Linked DNA regions of Homo sapiens: all the other regions are linked to region 1. Evidence: fine-mapped expression QTL. A gene starts in region 1. Each other region holds a variant in brackets. All regions are shown on one strand. Distances are from middle to middle. Region 1 holds the start of MRPS10 (mitochondrial ribosomal protein S10). Region 2 holds the start of GUCA1A (guanylate cyclase activator 1A). Region 3 overlaps GUCA1B (guanylate cyclase activator 1B).

The links.
Region 2: its variant is fine-mapped to the expression of MRPS10 in whole blood (TOPMed, PIP 0.95).
Region 3: its variant is fine-mapped to the expression of MRPS10 in monocytes after LPS (Fairfax 2014, PIP 0.95). The same link has a PIP of 0.9 or more in CD4 T cells, skin and subcutaneous fat.

The regions. Positions count from the first base shown.
Region 1 is chr6:42,213,541-42,221,400 of GRCh38, forward strand. It overlaps MRPS10 (mitochondrial ribosomal protein S10), which reads right to left and starts at 4,321. Exons shown (of 7, transcript NM_018141.4): 1 at 4,262-4,321; 2 at 740-804; 3 at 580-652. The coding sequence starts at 4,309. RefSeq lists enhancers at 2,433-3,035, 3,036-3,637, 4,209-4,488.
Region 2 is chr6:42,169,523-42,177,382 of GRCh38, forward strand. GUCA1ANB-GUCA1A (GUCA1ANB-GUCA1A readthrough) reads left to right here. Exons shown (of 5, transcript NM_001319062.2): 2 at 3,811-4,292. The coding sequence starts at 4,092. It overlaps GUCA1A (guanylate cyclase activator 1A), which reads left to right and starts at 3,842. Exons shown (of 4, transcript NM_001384910.1): 1 at 3,842-4,292. The coding sequence starts at 4,092. The variant T/C (reference allele first, on the strand shown) is at 4,797.
Region 3 is chr6:42,189,171-42,194,570 of GRCh38, forward strand. All of the region lies in intron 1 of GUCA1B (guanylate cyclase activator 1B), which reads right to left. Among named protein-coding and RNA genes, the nearest start is that of GUCA1B, 3.1 kb to the right of the region's middle. The variant CA/C (reference allele first, on the strand shown) is at 2,868.

The sequences.
Region 1 (7,860 bases):
TACAGACAAATGTCTAGAACTGTAATCCCAAACTGTTAAAGGGGGTTATTTTTGAGGGGTGGAAATGAAAGGATTTTTAAAAATTACAAGTAACACAAAAAACTGGATTGATGAAATCATAGCTTCTACAGGGTTACCAAGTTCCTTCTAGATGTTTATTATTTGTGCTAACGCATTTTCTCACTGTGAACAATAAAGCACTGTCCAGGCCCAGGCTCAATACACAAAATGAAAACAAAGACTTGAAGGCTACAAGAAAAATACTTTTCCATAACATAAATCAAGTATTCTACATCACAAATTCTGACAACTCTTCCATTATGCCAAGCTAAAAGCAAGAGACTACTAATTAACACAGTTATTTGGGGGTAAATAATTTATTCCTTTAGAACTTACTTTGATACCCTGAAGACAATATAATCCAGGGAGTTAAGAGAATATATGCGTTGTGCATTTGCCAGTATTCTAGGACAAAATTTTTTTATTCATAGAGTGTTTGGGGAAAAAAAACCCAATGAAATAATAAGGAAAACCTATTGCCAAGGTAGCTCCTTATACCAAGAAACAGGGAGTACATACCACAGGTTTGGTCAAATCCTTTGGAACATCAACGTGTAGGTTTGAAAACTGTACCCACTTCATATTGGTACTGCTATGTGTGGGGAAAAAAAGAGAAACCTAAGTAAAATAGCACAAGAACCTATTTTGTTCAATTTAGCACATCCAATTGTATACTTACAGAAGCAAGCCACCATTTTTGGCTGTATTGCCCTTAGAAGTGTTTACAGAAAAATTCCCCAATCCCTAAAGAAAAAAAAAGTAGGACATGTGTTAGAATTAAAGTCAACTACCAAACCATTCATAATTTCCACTAAAAACTAAAAGGTTACCTCATTATTTCAGACGAAGATACTGGGGTAACTAAAATGGCCAAATTAGATTGAAAAAAAAAAGAGGACAATGGTAGAGCTGATGATAAAAAAAAAAGCAGTCTCAAAATACTAGAGAATCTCTATTTTAAAGATTAGGAATAAAAACTTTTTCAAAAAAAACAATTCTCACATTTAAAAAAAGCTATGAATTATGTGGACATCAAGAAAAAATGTGACTTCATTTTCCCATTATTTTTTACAAATTAATTGTACTTCAGTATAATACTTATTTTGCCTGAATATCTTTAAGCAATAAAATATATTGTTTTTATAATTTGTTAAGAGTTGGAATAAAAATTCTGAAGTATCCCTCTTTTGATGCTTTCATACATCTTTTAAAGCATACATATTTCTTAGCTTGGCTGGGATAACTAGCTTATAATGAACTGAAATATGTGCTGTGACTTATACCCATCATTAACTACTGTGCCACATGCTACAACGAACCCACATTTCCAAATCCTTTACCATCAGCTCCCCCTGGTGGAACAAGACTTTCCAGTTTTAGGAAACAAACGATACTACTACATATAACAGCTGTTTTTTCCTTTCAACTTTTCTGAGATTTTGAAGTGTAACCTGAGAAAGTGGAAACACAATAGAATCCTTAAAAACACAATGAAGATGAAAATAAGGCCAGGTGCCGTGGCTCACACCTGTAATCCCAGCACTTTGGGAGGCCAAGGTGGGTGGATCACTTGTAGTCAGGAGTTCCAGAGCAGCCTGGCCAACATGGTGAAACCCTGTCTCTACTAAAAATACAAAAATTAGCCAGGCATGGTGGCGGTGCGGTTGTGATCCTAGTTACTTGGGAGGCTGAGGCAGGAGAATCGCTTGAACCCGGGAGGCGGAGGTCCAGGCTGGGTGACAGAGCGAGACTCCCTCTCAAAAAAAAAAAAAGAAGTTTAGCATAAGTGAAGTTTCATTAATACAAATGATTGTCACCTAAGTACGTTTTTGTTTGTTTTTTCAGGGTTTTTTTGAGACAAGGTCTCACTCTGTTATCCAGGCTGGAGTGCAGTTGCATGATCATGGCCTGGACCTCCCAGGTTCAGGTGGTCCTCCCACCCCAGTCTCCCAGATAGCTGGGACTACAGGCACGGGCCACCAGGCCCAGCTAATATTTTGTACTTTTGTAGAGATGGGGTTTCACCATATTTCCCAGGCTGGTCTTGAACTCGTGGGCTCAAGCGATCCTCCAGCCTCAGTGTCCCAAAGTGCTGGGATTTCAGGAGTGAACCACCACCTAGCCACGTTTTAAAAGCCTATTCTTAGCTTATTGTCCTTCCTCTCCTTACCCAAGATAGAGACAAATCATAACTCTATAATCTTCTTTGCACCAAAGGGGAAAAGGAAAAAGGAAATCAGGTACAACACAAAGTGGTAAGAGGTATGTGCCATTCTTCAGACAAAATTGCATAGAAAATTCCCTCCCAACAATTACACCAGTGACCCCACAATCGAGTTGTGCAAGAGGAGCAAGAATATTACACTTCTCAGTCACATTCTCCCACTATAAACCTCTGCTTTTTCTTTTCTTTTTTTTTTCTTTTCTTTTTTTTTTTTTTTTTGAGAGAGTCTTGCTCTGTCGCCCAGGCTGGAGTACAGTGGAGCATTCTCAGCTCACTGAAACCTCCGCCTCCTGGGTTCAAGCAAGTCTCCTGCCTTAGCCTCCTGAGTAGGTGGGATTACAGGGGCCCACCGCCACACTCAGCTAATTTTTGTATTTTTAGTAGAGACGGAGTTTTGCCATGTTAGCCAGGATGGTCTTGATCTCCTGATCTCGTGATCCGCCCACCTCGGCCTCCCAAAGTGTAGGGATTACAGGCGTGAGCCACCGTGCCCGGCCAAGAAGTTTTTAAATTGCATTTTTTCTTTGTATTTCTTGAGAGAGAGAGAGAGAGAGAGAGAGAGTGTGTGTGTGTGTGTGTGTGTGTGTGTTGGGGGAGTGGTGGTTTGGAAGGGAGGGCTGTCTGGGTAAATTTGTCTTAATAAAGCAGTTCAAAAATTTCAATCTCTAATACCATCTGACTTTTCTCAAGAACAGTGGTTTTCAGGCCGGGTGCGGTGGCTCAAGGCTGTAATCCCAGCACTTTGGGAGGCCGAGGCTGCCGGATCACTTGAGGTCAGGAGTTCGAGACCAGCCTGACCGACATGGTGAAACCCCGTCTCTGCTAAACATACAAATACTAGCTGGGCATGGTGACGCATGACTGTAATTCCAGCTGCTCGGGAGGCTGAGGTAGGAGAATCACTTGAACCCGGGAGGTGGAGGCTGTAGTGAGCCGAGATCGTGCCATTGCGCTCCAGCTTGGGCGACAAGAGCGAAACTCCGTCTCCAAACAAAAACAAAAACAAAAACGGTGGTCTCAAAGTGTAGTCTGAGGACGTCTGTGGGGTCTGAGACACTTTCAGGGGATCCGGGAAATCAAAACTATTTTCATAAAACCAAAACGTCATTTACAACTTTTCCACTCATTCTCTTACCAGTGTACAGTGAAGTTTTCCCGTGACAGCCTGAGGTGTGATATAGGAAAAGATTAAATACAGAAGCAGATTTGAATCTAGCTTTTATTAAGCCAGAAATTAAAGAGAGCTGCAAAAATGTAAAACATTGCTGCTCCTTACTCAGTTTGTTCAGAAAATATATTTTTCATAAAGTATTAGTTGTAACATGTAATGAGTTAGTGTTACTTTTAAATCAATATATATTCTTAAGTTTTATTTTCCAAAAAGCTAAATATAGATAGCAAAAACCCACAAAAACAAAAGCTCTCTGGAGTCCTGAACTCCGAAAGTGTAAAGTGGTCCCAAGGCCAAAAAGCAGGAGAACCGCTGCTGAAAAGTTTTTGCTCCTCCTGCAAATAACTGCGCAGAGGATATCTAACCCACTTCTCTGGCTTGAGACCTTCATCTAAATTTGGATGCCAGGAAAGCATCTCAATTTAGTTCCATGGGAAGAGTCTGATATCTTGCACCAGCTCAGCCTCTAATTTTCGCGAGGCAAATTTCCTGTCTTCTCTGAGCCTCAGTTTATTTTGCAAGCGTGAAAGGAGGGGTTTTGGAACATACGAAGTACAAAATCTTTTCCAGCTCTGACATTCTACGATTATTCTTGTTCCTATCTTTGCCTGGACTCACTAACTTATATTTAATTCCATGAGAGAATTCTGATAAAACTAGCCCCTTTCTCGTCACTTTCCTGTAAACGGCGCGAGGTGAGGGATAAATATCAGGAAAAATCCTGATGGGCAGAGCGGCTGGTGGCAGGGAAACTTAAAAGCAACTATCCCGGTCAGCCCTCCTAGTCTCCCTAGCCAATCCAGTACCTGCCAGAGGCGCCGGCACACAGCACCGAACGCTGTCCGCGCCGCCATCTTGCCGGTCCCGACCTCTCAGGATTGCTTCCGGGGTTACAGCGGCGTCCTCAGACCATAGAGTTCCGCAAAAGAAGAGAGTACATCCTCATGTTCCGGCGCTGGAACAACCATAGAGACATGAACCTGTGCTTTTTGGGGGCGGGACAGTTGGCTGGCCAGGCTGGTTTGGCTCCGGCCAGTGTCTGGATAGTTACCAAGCCCTATTAATGTTTTCACCTTTAAATTGTTGTGTGTGTATACACACACACACACACACACATTTATTTATTTACTTATTTTTTCCTTTTAGAGACTGAGTCTCACTCGGCTGCCCAGGCTGGAGTGCAGTGGCACAGTCATAGCTCACTGCAGCCTCAAACTCCTGCCTCAAGTGATCCTCCTGCCTCAGCCTCCCAAGTAGCTGGACTACAAGTGCGTGCCACCACAGCCGACTAATTTTTTGTTTTTTTTTTTAATTTTCTTGTAGAGACAGGGTCTCATTATATTGCTCTCGTTATTTTGTGGGCTGGTCTTGAATTCCTGTCCTCAAGTGATCCTCTGGCCTTGGCCTCCCAAAGGACTGAGATTACAGGCATGAACCACAAAGCCCGGACTGAAACTAGTGTATTGACACCATTTACTTCAGTACTGGAATAATGGGTGATTTATTTTCCTATTTTTGCATTTTTCAATTTTTTTTGCATTTTTCAAAATTTTAACAAAATCTATATTTAACAAGAAAAAGAAAAGTCGGCCACTACCATTGGGTCCAGTTGCCACTCAGTTACCTTATTGCAGCGGCTTTCTAATTATGGTTCTTAATCCTTTCTTCCTTCCCCACACCAATTGGAATTCCTGTGCTCCAACCATTTTGTATACCGCTGTCCTACTGATCTTTCTAAATTATTCATTTCCTTATGTTACTCTAGTATTTAGGAATTTACAATGGCTAGCTTCACTTACAACAAGCCAAAGTGTTTTGTCTAATTATTAATGTCCACCATAATTTTTTCCAAGTAAAAAGATGTATAACTGGGATTTGCTATAATAAAAACTTCTTCAGGCTGGGTGCGGTGGCTCACGCCTGTAATCCCAGCACTTTGGGAGGCTGAGGTGGGCGGATCACCTGAGGTCAGGAGTTCGAGACCAGCCTGGCCAACATGGTGAAACCCCATCTCTACTAAAAATACAAAAAATTAGTGGGGTGTCATCGTTGTGTGCCTGTAGTCCCAGCTACTCAGGAGGCTGAGGCACGAGAATTGCTTGAACCCGGGAAGTGGAGGTTGCAGTGAGGCAAGATCGTGCCACTGCACTCCAGCCTGGGAGACACAATGAGACTCTGTCTAAAAAAAAAAAAAAAAAAAGAAAAGAAAAGAAAAGGCCAGGTGCAGTGGCTCGGCTCACACCTGTAATTCCAGCACTCAGCACTTTGGGAGGCCAAGGCGGGTGGATCACCTGACGTCAGAAGTTCAAGATCAGCCTGGCCAACATGGCAAAACCCTGTCTCTACTAAAAATACAAAGTCAGGCATGGTGGTGTGCACCTGTAATCCCAGCTATTTGGGAGGCTGAGGCAGGAGAATCTCTTGAACCCGGGAGGCAGAGAGTGCAGTGAGCCGAGATTGAGATTGTACCACTGCACTCCAGTCTAGGGAACAGAGCGAGACTCCGTCTCCAAAAAAAAAACTTATTCCATTTGTGCAAATCTTTAAAAATTTATTTTTATTTTTCCTTTTACTTTCTCCTCATCTTAAAGTCTGCTTCTATAATACTATATTGTCTTTTTTGTGTGTGTGTGTGAGACAGTGTCTCGCTCTGTTGCCCAGGCTGGAGAGCACTGGCTTGATCATAGCCCACTGCAGCCTCAAACTCCTGGGGTTAAGTGATCCTCACACCACAGCCTCTGGAGTATCTAAAACTACAGGTGTTTGCGACCATTTTTTATTTTATTTTTATTGTTTTGTAGAGACAGAGACTTGCTATGTTGCCCAGGCTGGTCTCAAACTCCTGGCTTCCAGCAATCCTCTCACCTTGGCCTCCCAAAGTGCTGGTTTTACAGGTATGAGCCACTGCACTTGGCCCATTTGTTCACATTTCTAAGCTTTATTTCCCCAAAGTGCTTTCACATATGCATTTTAGCCTAATGGAAAACTCTAGCCTTATAATCAGATCTGGTTTCTAATCCCAGGCTTACCAGTTAGTTGAGTGACTTTGAGCAAGTTACTTCCTTACCCTCAGCCTCAGTTTGCTCATATGTCAAAAAAAAAAAAAAAAAAAAGATAACAGTAGTTCCTGCTTCCAATAGTTGCTTGGGAATTCAATGCAATACCAATATATGGTGTTTAGTACAATACTGCCATGTAATGATACACTATAGATGTCATCCACTATTTGTGCCATTAAGTTTCTACCTCACCTGCCTCACAAGGTTGTTGAGAAGATTAAAAATAAAAAGATCAAGTTTATGAGAATATTTTATAGCATCCAAATAAAGAACTGTACAAATATAAAGTTGTTTTTTTTTTCTCCCCACAAATAGTTATTACTACCCTATTTTGCAGGCAAGAGAACCAAAGAAGAGGCAGAATGATTTGCCCAACATCACACCTATCTAGGAGATAGAAAAGGTCTAGGAGCAGAAACCAGTTTTCCTGCCCCTCAGGCTGGCCTCTGTTTACTAGAATTCAGTCCGTGTTGAGGTGTGGCAGAGATTCCAGTGTGGCCTTGCAACAGGGTATGGAAACAGCACACTTCACCTGTGTGCACTTCTTATTTATTTATTTTTGAGACGGAGTTTCACTCTTGTTGCCCAGCCTGGAGTGCAATGGCATGACCCTGGCTCACTGCAACCTCCACCTCCTGGGTTCAAGTGATTCTCCTACCTCAGCCTCCTGAGTAGCTGGGATTACAGGCATGCGCCACCACGCCCAGCTAATTTTTGTATTTTTAGTAGAGACGGAGTTTCTCCATGTTGACCAGGCTGGTCTCAATCTCTTGACCTCCTGATCCGCCCACCTTGGCCTCCCAAAGTGCTGGGATTACAGGCTTGAGCCACCACACCCGGCCTCACCTGTGTGCCCTTCTGCTGGACTCGGTGATGCCCCATGTTGGCAGGTTGCCCAGTGCCCTTCTCAGAATCAGTCTCTCTCTCTGAATTGTGACACTTAAGGGGATTTCTCTCAGCCAATGGGGTTTTCCAACAGCCTCCCCACTCCCAACTCTGTTCCTGCTTCCAAAGTTTGCATCGGTTTGTCCAAATGGCACTTCCGTGAGGCCCTTCACCCTGCCTCTGTCCCCTTTGAGTAGCCTCAGCTGGGTGAGTGTTCTGCAACTATAGTGCTTGCAAACGACTTTCACCTAAGTTACCTACTCTGATCCACACCAGAAGACATGGATTTTATCCTCATTTTATAGATGAGGAACCCAAGGTGAAATGACTCACTCAGGGTCATATGGTAAGTTAGTTACAGCTAAACCAATAACCATCTTAAAAGCAGTGCCTTTTCTACCTCTGCAGTGGGCTGGTGCTGATTCTATGATGAGGTTCGGTTCTATTTAAATCTCTTGGAT
Region 2 (7,860 bases), 44 kb before region 1:
ACAGCCCAGGTGACACCCTGAGAGCAGCCTTGTGAGACGCTAGGCAGAGGACCAGCTAAGCTGTGCCTGGACTCCTGGCCCATAGAAACTGTGAGATAATAAATGTGTGGCCAGGCACGGTGGCTCATGCCTGTAATCGCAGCACTTTGGGAGGCTGAGGCAGGTGGATCACCTGAGGTCGGGAGTTTGAGACCACCCTGACCAACATGGAGAAACCCTGTCTCTACTAAAAATACAAAATTAGTGGGGCATGGCGGCACATGCCTGTAATCCCAGCTACTCAGGAGGCTGAGGCAGGAGAATTGCTTGAACCTGGGAGGCAGGAGGTTGTGCTGAGCCGAGATCGCATCATTGTACTCTAGCCTGGGCAACAAGAGTGAAACTCCATCTCAAAATAATAATAATAATAATAATAATAATAATAATAATAATAATAATAAATGTGTGTAGTTTTAAAACTGCTGACTTTGTGGTTATTTGTTATGCAACATAGAAAACTAATATAACACACACATTAGCCAGAGTTCTTCAGAGAGACAGAGCTAATAGGATTATATATAGAGGTATGAGAGAAGATTTATTAGGGGGATTGGCTCACATGTTTATGGAGGCTGAGAAGTCCCACAATATGCCATCTGCAAGATGGAGAACCAGGGAAGCCAGTAGCATGGCTCAGTTCAAGCCCAAAGGGTTCAGAGCCAAGGAAACTGATGGTGTAACTCTGGGTCTGAAGCTGAAGGACTGAGAACGTGAGAGTGGGGAGGGGTTGCTACTGGTGCAAGTCCTGGAGTCCAAGGGCAGGAGAAGAAGAGTGTCCCAGCTCCAGGACAGAGAGAGAGAGAGAGAGGGAGAGAATTCACCTTTCCCCTGCCTTTTTCTTCTGTCCAGGCCTAAGCCAATTGGATGGTGCCCACCCACATAGGCTGAAGGCAGATTCTCCTTACTTAGTCCATGAATTCAAATGCCAGTCTCTTTGGCAAGCACCCTCACAGAAACACCCAGAAATAAAGCTTTACCAGCTTGTTGGGTAATCCCTTCATCCAGTCCTAAAATTAACTGTCACAACACATAAGCAAAATGTCAGTATGCTGTGGGAGGAAGATATTTGAGAGAGATTTGGGAAGGCTTCACAGAGGAGGTGGCATTTGTACTCACACATGAAGAGTGAGAGGGATTTAAATAGAAAGGGAAAGATGAGCGGCTGCCTTGTCCCCAACCTCTTCATTTCCCAATCTTGGGCCTGAGAGTCCTCGGCAAGGACACATTTTCCAGCTGGGCCCCAAGCAAGTTCACAGAAGGAGTCCTTCTCTCCCCGTCCCTTAACTTGTTGTGGAGAAGCTGACTGAAGCAGGGAGAACCCAGCTCCCCACCCCCATATACCTTCCGTCAATCAATTCATGTGGAGTAGAGGTAAAACAGTCCCAGTTTGTCTCTTTTTCAAAAATAACTATCCTCTTTGATTTTGTGAGCAACATATGTTCATTATGAACAATTTTTTTTTTTTTTTTTGAGATGGAGTCTCTCTCTGTCGCCCAGGCTGGAGTGCAATGGCGTAGTCTCGGCTCACTGCAAACTCCGCCTCCCAGGTTGAAGTGATTCTCCTGCCTCGGCCTCCCAAGTAGCTGGAATTACAGGCGCCCACCACCATGCCTGGCTAATTTTTGTATTTTTAGTACAGATGGGGTTTTACCATGTTGGCCAGGCTGGTCTCGAACTCCTGACCTTGTGATCCACCCGCCTCAGCCTCCCAAAGTGCCGGGATTACAGGCGTGAGCCTGGATCTGGTAAGGCTTTAACAAAGGCCTCCACCTTCCCTAGGGCCTGACTACAGCTGGTAGGTGGCCTGTGTGAGGCAGGTTGGATGTCTGTTCCTACACATAGCCCTTCTGGCCGTCCAGGGCCCAGAGTGAATGGGGCTAAAGGGACAAGAGCACGATTGGCTCTAACCCAGGGATGCTGCTGTGTCCAAGATGCAGTATAAGTGCACCTAGATTGTAGTGAACAGCACATCAGACATGCTGCTGTAATAGATACAAAATCATAACATCATAGCCAAGATTTATGGGGCACTTACTCTGGGGCAGACCTTGTTCTAAATGCTTTTCTTATATTAACTCACATACTCTTTTTTTTTTTTTTTTTTGAGATAGGGTCTCGCTTTGTCATTCAGGCTGGAGTGCAGTGGTGCGATCTTGGCTCACTGCAACCTCCGCCTCCTGGGTTCAAGCGATTCTCCTGCCTCAGCCTCCCGAGTAGCTGGGATTACAGGAGTGTGCACCATCACGCCTGGCTAATTTATGTATTTTTAATAGAGATGAGGTTTCACCATGTTGGCCAGGCTGGTCTCGTACTCCTGGCCTCAAGTGATCCACCCGCCTCGGCCTCCCAAAATGTTGGGATTACAGGTGTGAGCCACCGTGCCCAGCCCCACTTACTCCCCTTAACAGCCCTATCAGATGGGCGCCATTATTCCTATTTTAAGAATGAGGAAACTGGGGCCCAGAGAGGTTAAGTTACTTGCTCAAGGTCACCCAGCCAGTAATGTAAGCAAGAAACAAGCTTGTATTGTTTTCAGCCACTGAGATTTTAGAGTGGTTTGTTACTGTAGCATAACCTAGCCCATTCTGAAATATGTATGCACATGTATTTGATATATGTTATATGTTGTATAAATTGTATATTTATATAAATCTATTTACATGTAATTATATATTATTTATATAAATCATATAAATTGTGTATCAGTGCACAACTTGACCAAGTGTCCAAGGCCCTGGTGGGGAAAGCAGAAATATGGGCAGTGGTTCCCTCTAGATGAGTTAGGAGACCTGGGTGTGCCCCATATGTAAAGGAGGAAGGCAAACAAGAGAAAAAGACAGGGCAGGGCAAGCGCTGGCTTTAAGCTTTCCTGGCAGCATCCAGGTTAAGTGCACCTGCACCCAAATGCTGGTTCCATAAATGAGCCAGCTTTTAAGTGTGTGGCTAGGGAGTACGCATCCCACCAGGCATCAGAGAAAGCTGTTGCTGCATAGACAGGCCCCCAGGCTTGGCCTGGGAGCTTTCCAGGACCAGCAGGTAGCAGCTCACCCATGCACCTGTGTGCCTGCACTCTCACACTCACACATACCCCAGGGCACCAGGCGCACACTCCATGTCCCCTGCCCTGTGCCCCTAGTAGGTGATGGTGATGATGTGAGGCTCAGAATTAGATGGAAGGATGAATTCAGGGCTCTCAAGAAGGGAGAGATGCAACCTTCAGGAACATGAGAGTGTGGCCAGAACAGGATGAGTGTGTACGAGTGTGTGTATGTGTGTGCACGTCTCTGTGTACTGGTGCAGGCTAATGTAGGAGGGGGTTCTCTCTGGCTGTTCAAGGCTTATCTTGGAAGCCCACAGACTCTGCATCCACCCAGGTGCCCTCAAATGTTAGCACACTCATGGTATGATTGGACCCCCTCAGTTGTGATGGCCAAGTGCAGTGCACAGCCTGGATAACTGTACACAGCAGCCCTGTCAAGAGCCCACAGTTGGCCATCTCTGGACAAGAAGCCAGCTCTATCTCATATATACCTCAATTCCATGATTGAAGGCAGAATCCAAAACCACTGTGAATCCACTCAAACCAGGAGAAGAAGGTCACAAAGGTCATAGGATCAGAGCAGCTTCTAGCTGACACCCACTCCGTGGTGGTAAGAAGGGATTAGAAGATTGCAAACTGGGTTAAAAAATCCTCTCACCTACAGCTCAAGGCTGTAATCCTAAGGACTCTGCTTCTCTAAGCCTTGTTCTATTTTCAACTCTTTTCTCCAGGGTACAGTCTCCCCTGGGGCTGCAAGGATTTAGTGGAGACTCTTAACACCAGTTCTCTGGCATCTGTGAGTTTGAGTGTGGGCCATCATCTTCTTCCTTCTGCTCTCTCCCTCTCCACATTTCCCGGTACCATCTGATCCATCAGGCCCTTCTTTGCTCAGGCCTGAAGGACTCAGGCCTGTGAGAGAGGACGGCCCCGTTGTCGGCCAAGACACCTTTGGGCGAGGAGCAGCGAACAGGGCCTGTCCATCTCAGACGTCAGCCCCCTGAAGGCCTGAGCAATGGGCAACGTGATGGAGGGAAAGTCAGTGGAGGAGCTGAGCAGCACCGAGTGCCACCAGTGGTACAAGAAGTTCATGACTGAGTGCCCCTCTGGCCAACTCACCCTCTATGAGTTCCGCCAGTTCTTCGGCCTCAAGAACCTGAGCCCGTCGGCCAGCCAGTACGTGGAACAGATGTTTGAGACTTTTGACTTCAACAAGGTGAGCAGGGGCCCAGTGGCAGGGAGGGGAAGTGCTGGAGGGACCCCTCTGGAAGCCTGACCAGCTGGGGGTGAGGAAGAGCAGAGAGGAGCATAGAAGTGTCCGCTGGGGAGCAACTTCATTTATACAGTCATTTGTTTATTTGATAGGTGGGTTTTTGACACTAGGGTTTCAACGGATCTAATGTTTGTGCTTTAATGAGCACCAACTGTGAATCAGGCACTGGGGGGTTAGAAATGTATCAGACATTGTCCCTGCCCTCACTTTCTAGGGCAAGACAGAGAGGCCCACACATTAGTGTAATCCGAGGCTGAATCCAATGGCTTCCTCCACCTCTGCCACAGGCATATCTTGGTTTACTCCAAAACGAGTGTAAACACTTCCAAGATGGTCATTGAACACCTGCGATGTGCTGGTCCTATACGTGGTGCTTTTGCAAACACCCTTTGAAGCTCCCAAGGATGTGGGCAGAGGGGCAGAGAGCAGGGAGCAAGATGATGATTC[T/C]CTAGCCTCACTGTCTGGCATGGGCAGGCCACTTATAATATTCTGCGGACATGAGGACTGGAGACAGACAGGGTTGCCTGGTCCCTGGAGAACCCAGAATGCTCCCAACTTCAAAATACCCAGTGACCTCATATCACCTTTTCTCAAGTGAGCCTGAAGGTCCACACCGTGGTCAAATTGTGTCTCCTCAGTAGCCACCTGGACGCATTAGGTAAGGACTTCCTAATTGATAAGCTAGAGGGGTCACTGAAAGGTGAGTTTGGGACTGTGGGTTTGGGTCCCTAGCTTTCATCCGCTGGGTGACCTTGAGCCCATCATTTCCCCTCTCAGTCCCAGTATATTCATGATGCCGTGGATGTTGGGAGCATTAGTTAAGATGTTTGTTGGTTTTCATAGTAAATCTTCCATTCATTTGGAACTATTTGGTCAAGACATAGTTGTGGAAGAGCCCAAATCTGCAAACGTGGCTCCCCACCCTGTGGCCCCTCACTTGAAAAGTGAGGATGCAATGAGGCGCTGCCGCGTGTCCTCTGCAGACCCGGGAGAGGTTCCTTCCCTCGCTGCCCAGAAGGTCCAGGCACCATCATGGGTGGGGCTTCTTGGGAAAGCTGGGGCTCAGTGGCTATTTAAAACTCACTAATATTTAAGGATAAGGGACCAAAGTAGATTACGGGCTTTGAGTGTCAACCTCAGGTGTAGTATGAGGGAGCCCAAGGGCTTTCCCGAAGCGGGAGCAGGTGAGCAGAGTCCAGAGCCTGTGTACAGAGACTGGGAGGGATGGCATCATCACATTCAACACTCAAAATGCTCCCGAAGAAGGAATAACTCCTGAACAGGAGGGGAAGGACAAATGGATGGTTGAGCCTCACACCTTACCCCCAAACAGCGACATATCTCATCTTCTCACCTGCTAAGAAAACCCTTTGGGTTAAGACATGTCTGCAGAAGGACCCTTACAGTCACACATATGACGCCGGTGGGGGTGGGGGAGGGCAACCCTGGGGCACATCGACCCTGTATTTGCCTAATCATGTCTTTTTTTTTTTTTTTTTTTTTTTTTGAGATGGAGTCTCGCTCTGTCGCCCAGACTGGAGTGCAGTGGCGTGATCTCGGCTCACTGCAACCTCCACCTCCTGGGCTCAAGCGATTCTTCTGCCTCACTCAGCCTCTCAAGTAGCTGGGATTACAGGCACCCACAACCATGCCTGGCTAATTTTTGTATTTTTAGTAGAGATGGGGTTTCACTATGTTGGCCAGGCCGGTCTCAAACTCTTGACCTCAGGTGATCCGCCCACCTCGGCCTCCCATAGTGCTGGGATTACAGGCGTGAGCCACCACGCTGAGCCAACCATGTCTTAATGTGTGTCCCATGCGAGCACCACCTGTACTGTACCAAACCTGACCCTTGTCTTTCCACTGAAAGTAAATCAACCCCTTGTTTCTAGGCAGTCTGGCCTCCTCCCTTATTCCACACACACCCCCGCCTTAGGGGTTTTGTGCTGCCTGGGACCCTCTCTGCCCCCAGAATTCTGCTCGGCTTACACCTTCCTCTGCTGCAAGTCTCTGCTTAGAAGTCTCCTCACTAACCCCTGCCGTGATCTTCTGGTTTAAACTCTGTTTAAAACTGGGACTGGTTCCCACCTCTGCATTTCCTAGTCCCACCTTTCCCCGCAAGCACCTGTCGTCTTCCAATACCAGATTTAAATAACATTTCACCATTACGTTTATCGCCTGTCTCCCCCTGCTGGAATGTGAGCTCCATGTGGGCAGGGATTTTTGTCTTGTTCACTGTTGAATCCCTGGTTCCTAGAACAGTGCCTGGATTGTGGCAGGTGCTTAATAATATTCATTGTATGAGTGAATGAATATATGAGAAATCAGGAATTTAATGGCTAGTTATTTTATAATATACATCAATTTAACTCTGCAAATATTAAAATGAAGAGTGACTTTGTAACACCCAACCTGCCTCATCTACACCCATGGCACACAATCACACTTTGCATAATACTGTCTTGACCCATTGTCATCAGCATGGAGCAGTTTAGCAGATTGGCTAGGAGATGGAACACAGGATTGGGAAGTTTTTGTTGTTGTTGTTGTTTTGTTTTTTGTTGTTGTTGTTGTTTTTTGAGATGGAGTTTTGCTCTTGTCACCCAGGCTGGAGTGCAATGGCACGATCTCGGCTCACTGCAACCTCCACCTCCTGGGTTCAAGTGATTCTTCTGCCTCAGCCTCCTGAGTAGCTGGGATTACAGGTGCCCACCACCACGCCTGGCTAATTTTTGTATTTTTAGTAGAGACAGGTTTTCACCACATTGGCCAGGCTGGTCTCGAACTCCTGACCTCAGGTGATCCACCTGCCTCGGCCTCCCAAAGTGCTGGGATTACAGGTGTGAGCCACTGCACCTGTCCAGAAGTTTTGATACAGAGAGGAGTTAAACAGGGACAGGCAAATGACAGCACACAGGCCTGTTTTTGTAAATGAAGTTTTATTAGAACTCACCACATCTATTTATTTACGTAGAGAATTGTCTATGGCTGCTTTCACGTAAAATGACAGAGGGTGTTTGGCTGCAAAGCTGCATATTTACTCTTTGGCTCTTTACAGAAAAAGTTTGCCATTTTCTAATAAAAACTAAAAAGTTTTTAGTGCAAGTGCCAGCCCTTGCACTAAAAAATGGTTGTATCTTTGGGTATTGCACCAGATGTGCAGGGCTGGGGAGTACAGAGTGTGACTGGGGAGTGAAACCTGGGGGACAGGCCATTTGCTTTGCTTACTTCAAATGTTTGTCTGGGCTTGGGTTTGTCTGACAATCACACAGGTGCACACAAATCAATGCAAATCTCCATCTGCATTTGAGTACTGATATAGGATGATTTAGGAGAGGCTTTGTCATTCACTAGCTGTTTGGCCTAATCTCTCTCAACTTTGGCTTTGTCATTCAAACTAGAGACAAAAATATTCACCTCTTGGGGGTGGCTTGAGATTAAATGAGTAAAATGAATAAAGCACTCAGCCTAGGAAGTCCATGGAGAGCACTAAGAAAAGTTAGTATTGCTA
Region 3 (5,400 bases), 26 kb before region 1:
GCCTTTATTCTCTGACCTCTTCAGCCATAGTGCTCTCTCCCTCCTCATTCTAACATCCACAGCCTCTACTGTCTATTCTACACAGCTTGGGACTTTCTCTGGCATTGTCACTTAACTGTTTCCTAGATTTGTCTTGTTCTCTAGCCATGTTATATGCTCCTGGGGAAAAGAGGGGTTGACATTGCTTGGGTTTCTCCTCCATGCCTAGCACAGTGCCACTTATGGCCAGAATTGTAAGCCAATAGATATTCATAAATCAATGAGTCAATGATGGACTTGATCTGAATTTGGGACTAAGACAGTTTTGAAGGAATTAGAAAGCAGAGCCCATGTTGAAATTTTCCTCTGCATTCTCATTCACCCCAAGTCAGAGAGAGGCAGACAGGCAGTGGCTCCAGCCCTACCCACTTCTAGGTCCCAGTGGACATTACACCGAACAACAGGCCTGTGCCTCCAGCCCATCCAGGAAGGTTGGGGAGCGCAGAGCTCAGGTGCTAATTGGGCAGAGGAAGGGGGAGAGGCACAGTCTACTTCTAAGGTGACTCTCACCAGGAAGCAACAGAACCTTCTTGTAACAGAAATGCGGCAGCAATAATGATTTCTAAAACAGTAAATAAGAAAGAGGATATATTCTTGCTTTCTTCTCCAGATGTGTTTGGGGTGACAGGCTGCTGTTGCCGCTGCTGTTGGTGGCTGCAGTGGGTTAGCTGTGCTAGTGTCTCACTTACAGGTGCTCACTTATTCCAAGGTTGGGAACTCCATTCTCCAAATCAAAAATCTGAGCTATCAGATCCCCCAGGAGTGCCTGTCATTCACATGACTTTGTTATCAGAAATGACACTGATGGCCCAGAGCACTTCTGTCCCACTGGGTCAGGCCACTCAGGAGCCCCAGCCCCAGATCAAGGGGTGCCTCAGTGAACAAGGTTTGAGCAACAGGAGAAAATGGCAGAAAATGAGGGAAACAGCAAGAAGCCTAAGGAAAAACTAAGAAGAAAACAAAACGAGCTTACCTTAGTACCTGAAGTGTTCTATTCATATCTTTTATATAATTCCTATAAATATATGGTCTCCGTACTCCCCATCATATACTTATCTAATTGAGGTCAGATTATATTTATAATTTTGTTTCCTTCATTCTCATGTAACATTTTCTCATGTCTTTAAAAATTAGTTAAAATGTCAACTTCCATTTTTTTTTTTTTTTTTGGTGGGGAGGGGGTACTGAACATTCCCTTTGTTGAATATATTTCTAATATTTTCCATTAAACAATGAACTTTTTTTTTGCACGTATACCTTTTCTTATATCTCTGGTATTTCTTTTTTTAGGGTAGACACTTAGCAATGGTTGTCAGTTCTTTAAAAGGCTATTTTCTCGAGTAGTTGTTACTTATTAAGCTTACCACAAATCAATCTTGTGTTTCTTATTTAATGAGAATTAGTTATTATCCCCATTTTATGGATGAGGAGCCTGAGACCCAGAGGTTCCCAGGCCACCCAGCCAGCAAGTGGCAGAGCTTTTCCAGGCATGCATCTCCTCCAGTGCATCACGTCGGAAGAACTTGCAGTCTCCACTTAAGATCTATTTCTGTCCAGCAAATAAGCCTAGTGCTTGGGGGTGCCAAGAGAAGAAAAACAAAAACAAAACCTGAAACCACTCACAAATCCCCACTCTCTAGATCTCCAGAGTCTTCCTCATTCTTTGTCCAGAAGCTTCTATTCCTACAACATCCTCTCTCAACATGATTCAGTTTCCATGACTCCTTGCCTTATATGAGACATATTCCAGAGTGATCTCTAGACAAGTGATCTCATCTGAGAGGTTACTGGAAACCCCAGGACCATTTCTGGGAAACGTCCAGCTGGGACTAATCTCATCTGCTATGCATGGGACCTTGTCAGCTCCAATTACCCACAGAGGCCTGAGAGTGATGGAAATGGCTCTGTCTACTCAGGAATAGGATGGGCGTGTCACCGGCTCTGTGGGATTATCTGCCCTGTTTCTCCTTGAATTGGCCATATTTGTGCACCAGCCCTGACTTCAATGCATGTTATATAAGAATCCTAAATGACATCTGATCTTCACCCTCCCCTTTCTTCCATTCCAGGCGGTCATAGGGCAACCACGAGAGTTGCAAGGGAGAGTGGCAGAGACGAGGTGTTCCTACCTTTTTGTCCCCACCAAACCGGTTTCCATCACCTCACATTTTCACGTGTGAACCACATCTATAAACACTTTTGATTGGATTTGCTTTAGAAATCTCAGACCGATTGTTCCGAAATGACACTCCTTGATATAAGGGGGAATGGAGTCAGGTGTAGGTTTGGAGACAAAGACTAAGTGGGAAAGAAGGCTCAGTCCCTGAGAGAGGAACTGAAAAACACTTTCTAGGGAGGCTCTTCCTTACAGTGGAATGCCAACTAATAAATAGAGAAGGGGTGATGGGGTTAGAAAATTATCAACAGATGCCAAAGCCAGTAGAAAATTTGACTGAACAATAGGATATTTACTTAGTCTCAAGATATATCCTTACATGTTGCTTATTAATTACAAAGAAAAAAATAGTAACTTTACAATGTTGAAACATGGCAGATACCACCTTAACCAAGTGATCAAAGTTAACTACGCCAGTGATGGGACAAACTGATGTCTTGTACCGGATGGTATGATGAACCGAGGACACAACATCACATCAGTGGCAATTCTACCAATTTAGACAAACGCCAGTTGTGGGCTGTCCTACAACATAACTCAGCTGCAGTCTTCAAAAATGTCACAGTCAAATAAAAAAGAAAAGCTGAGATTAAAGATTCCAGGTTAAAGAAGACTAAGGAGATACAACAAGTAAATGCAATGTATGATCATA[CA/C]AAAAAAAAAAAAGAAAAAAAAAAAGAAAAAGGAAGGCCAGGCATGGTGGCTCATGCCTGTAATCCCAACACTTTGGGAGACCGAGGCGGGTGGATCATGAAGTCAAGAGATGGAGACAATCATGGCCAACATGGTGAAACCCCATCTCTACTAAAAATACAAAAATTAGCTGGGCATGGTGGTGCTCGCCTGTAGTCCCAGCTACTGGGGAGGCTGAGGCAGGAGAATCGCTTGAACCTGGGAGGTGGAGGTTGCAGTGAGCCAAGATCATACCACTGCACTACAGCCAGGGTGACAGAGCGAGACTCCAACTCAAAAAAAAAAAAAAAAAAAAAAAAAAAGAGAGAAAAGAAAAGAAAAGAAAAGAAAAAGGAAAAAAGAAAGAAACCTGGCCGGGTGCAGTGGCTCATGCCTGTAATTCCAGCACTCTGGGAGGCCGGGGTGGGCAAATCACTTCAGGTCAGGAGTTCGACACCAGTCTGGTCAACATGGTGAAACCCCGTTTCTACTAAAAATACAAAAATTAGCCAGGCATGGGAGTGTGCACCTGTAATCCTAGCTACTCAGGAGGATGAGTCATGAGAATTGCTTGAACTCAGGAGGTGGAGATTGCAGTGAGCTGAGATTGTGCCACTGCACTCTAGCCTGGGCAACATGGCGAGACCTCATCTCTACCAACATAAATAAATAAATAATACAAAAATTAGCAGGCATGGTGGTGCACACCTGTAATCCCAGCTACTTGAGAGGTTGAGGTGGGAGGATCCCTTGAGCCTGGGAAATCAGAGGCCGCAAAGAGCTGAAATCATGCCACTGGGTGACAGAGCGAGACTCTGTCTCAAAAACAAAAAAGAAAATACACACTGAAATACTTAGGGATAAACGGGCATGATATCTATAGCTTTCTCTTAAAAAAAGTATATGTATAAATTATGTATCATGTATATGTATATATACTTATAGGATACATTATATATATGTATGTATACAGAGAGAGGCAGAATGATAAAGTAAATGATATAAAATGTGAATAACTGGGGAAATTTGGATAAATTGCATATGGGAGTTACTTGTATCATTCTTATAACTCTTCTGTAAATTTAGAATCATAGTAAAATTAAAAAGTTATTCAAAAAGGAAAAAACATTGATGAACATCATATGCCGATTTATAAGAAGAGATGAGGTATAAGGAGTACAACTATATGCCTAGGGGCTTAATCAGCCCTTTGGATCTTGAATCATGATCGTATTGATTTTTAGATGAATCTGGGGAAGATTGATGGACTTAAATGAGTCTTATTATTTATGACCTGATATATTTGTTTACTTTTCTTACATTTTAAAAAAACATCAATTATTTTAAAAAGTCATCTTCTCTCTTTAAAAAACCTGCCTTCTAGGCAGGAGCACTTAAGACCTTGGGCAAATCGATTCATTCCCTTTTGCCCAGCTTTCTCATCATTTAATTTGGAATAACAAAAGTCTGCCCCTCCCACCCAGGGTTGCTGCTGATTCAGAGGAGACCTAAGAGAGGCGGAGCGCTGAGAAGTCCGAAACTGGCTCTGTGCCCTGTGGGGTGGTCGATGGGGTTCATCTCTAAGGAGGTTCTGTTGAATTGAAGGTGCTGACCTCACCCTCCTGTCCCGGGACAGGCACTGTGGGGACGTGCACTGACTGGTACCAGCGACAGGATGAGACCTGAAGTGGCATTCCCAGTGATTCAGCTTAGAAAGCTAAGTTCTCCACGCACTGAGGAATGGAGAACTGACACTTTCTTCAGATTAAATTGGTATTTGAGGCAAATACCAGGGCATTTGAGGTATTTGAGGTATTTGAGGATTGCCAGGGCACTGAACTGGATAACCTTAAATAATCAAGGGGTTTTTAACTGAATTGAAATTTAAAATTCAATCCCCTGGTGCATTTACAAGATGTGTTATCTTCTTAGCTGCTAGTGACATTGTGGGCTTAGAGAAACTCTAGTCTGAATGATTTAATGAAACCTTCCAGGACTTGAAGAGCTGAAAGGGGCTTTTGCAGTCATTCGCCCAGTCTCCCAATACATGCAGGAGCCTCTTCCAGCATTCTTGACAGGGAGGATCTGACCAGTCTCAGAAGAACCCCAACAAGAGGGAGCTCATAGCCCATGCTAAGATACCTTGTCTCATTTAGAACATCTCTTTTGCTCCTAGTGTTTAGAGTGACAGGGGCTCTGGCAGATGCGAAAACCCGGTCATTGGGCTGCAGAGTCTTGGTCAAAAATACACAAAGAGAGGACCTGGACTGTCTGCCAGTCGCCCTTCAGCTCTCAAGAAGAGGACACAGGGAGCATCAGCCGACAGCTAAGAGATGGAGGGAGGGAAGGAGAGACAGAGAAGATGGAAAGGGACAAAAGGAAGAGAAGAGACAGAAGGGTTTGGTGAGTGAGACAGAAAAGGTAAAGAGAGACGGAGTGGAAAGAAGAGCAGAGAAAGAGCCGAGGAGTGGGGAACTGGGAGCTCTCCCTGAGGACACTTGTGGAGGAAGGCG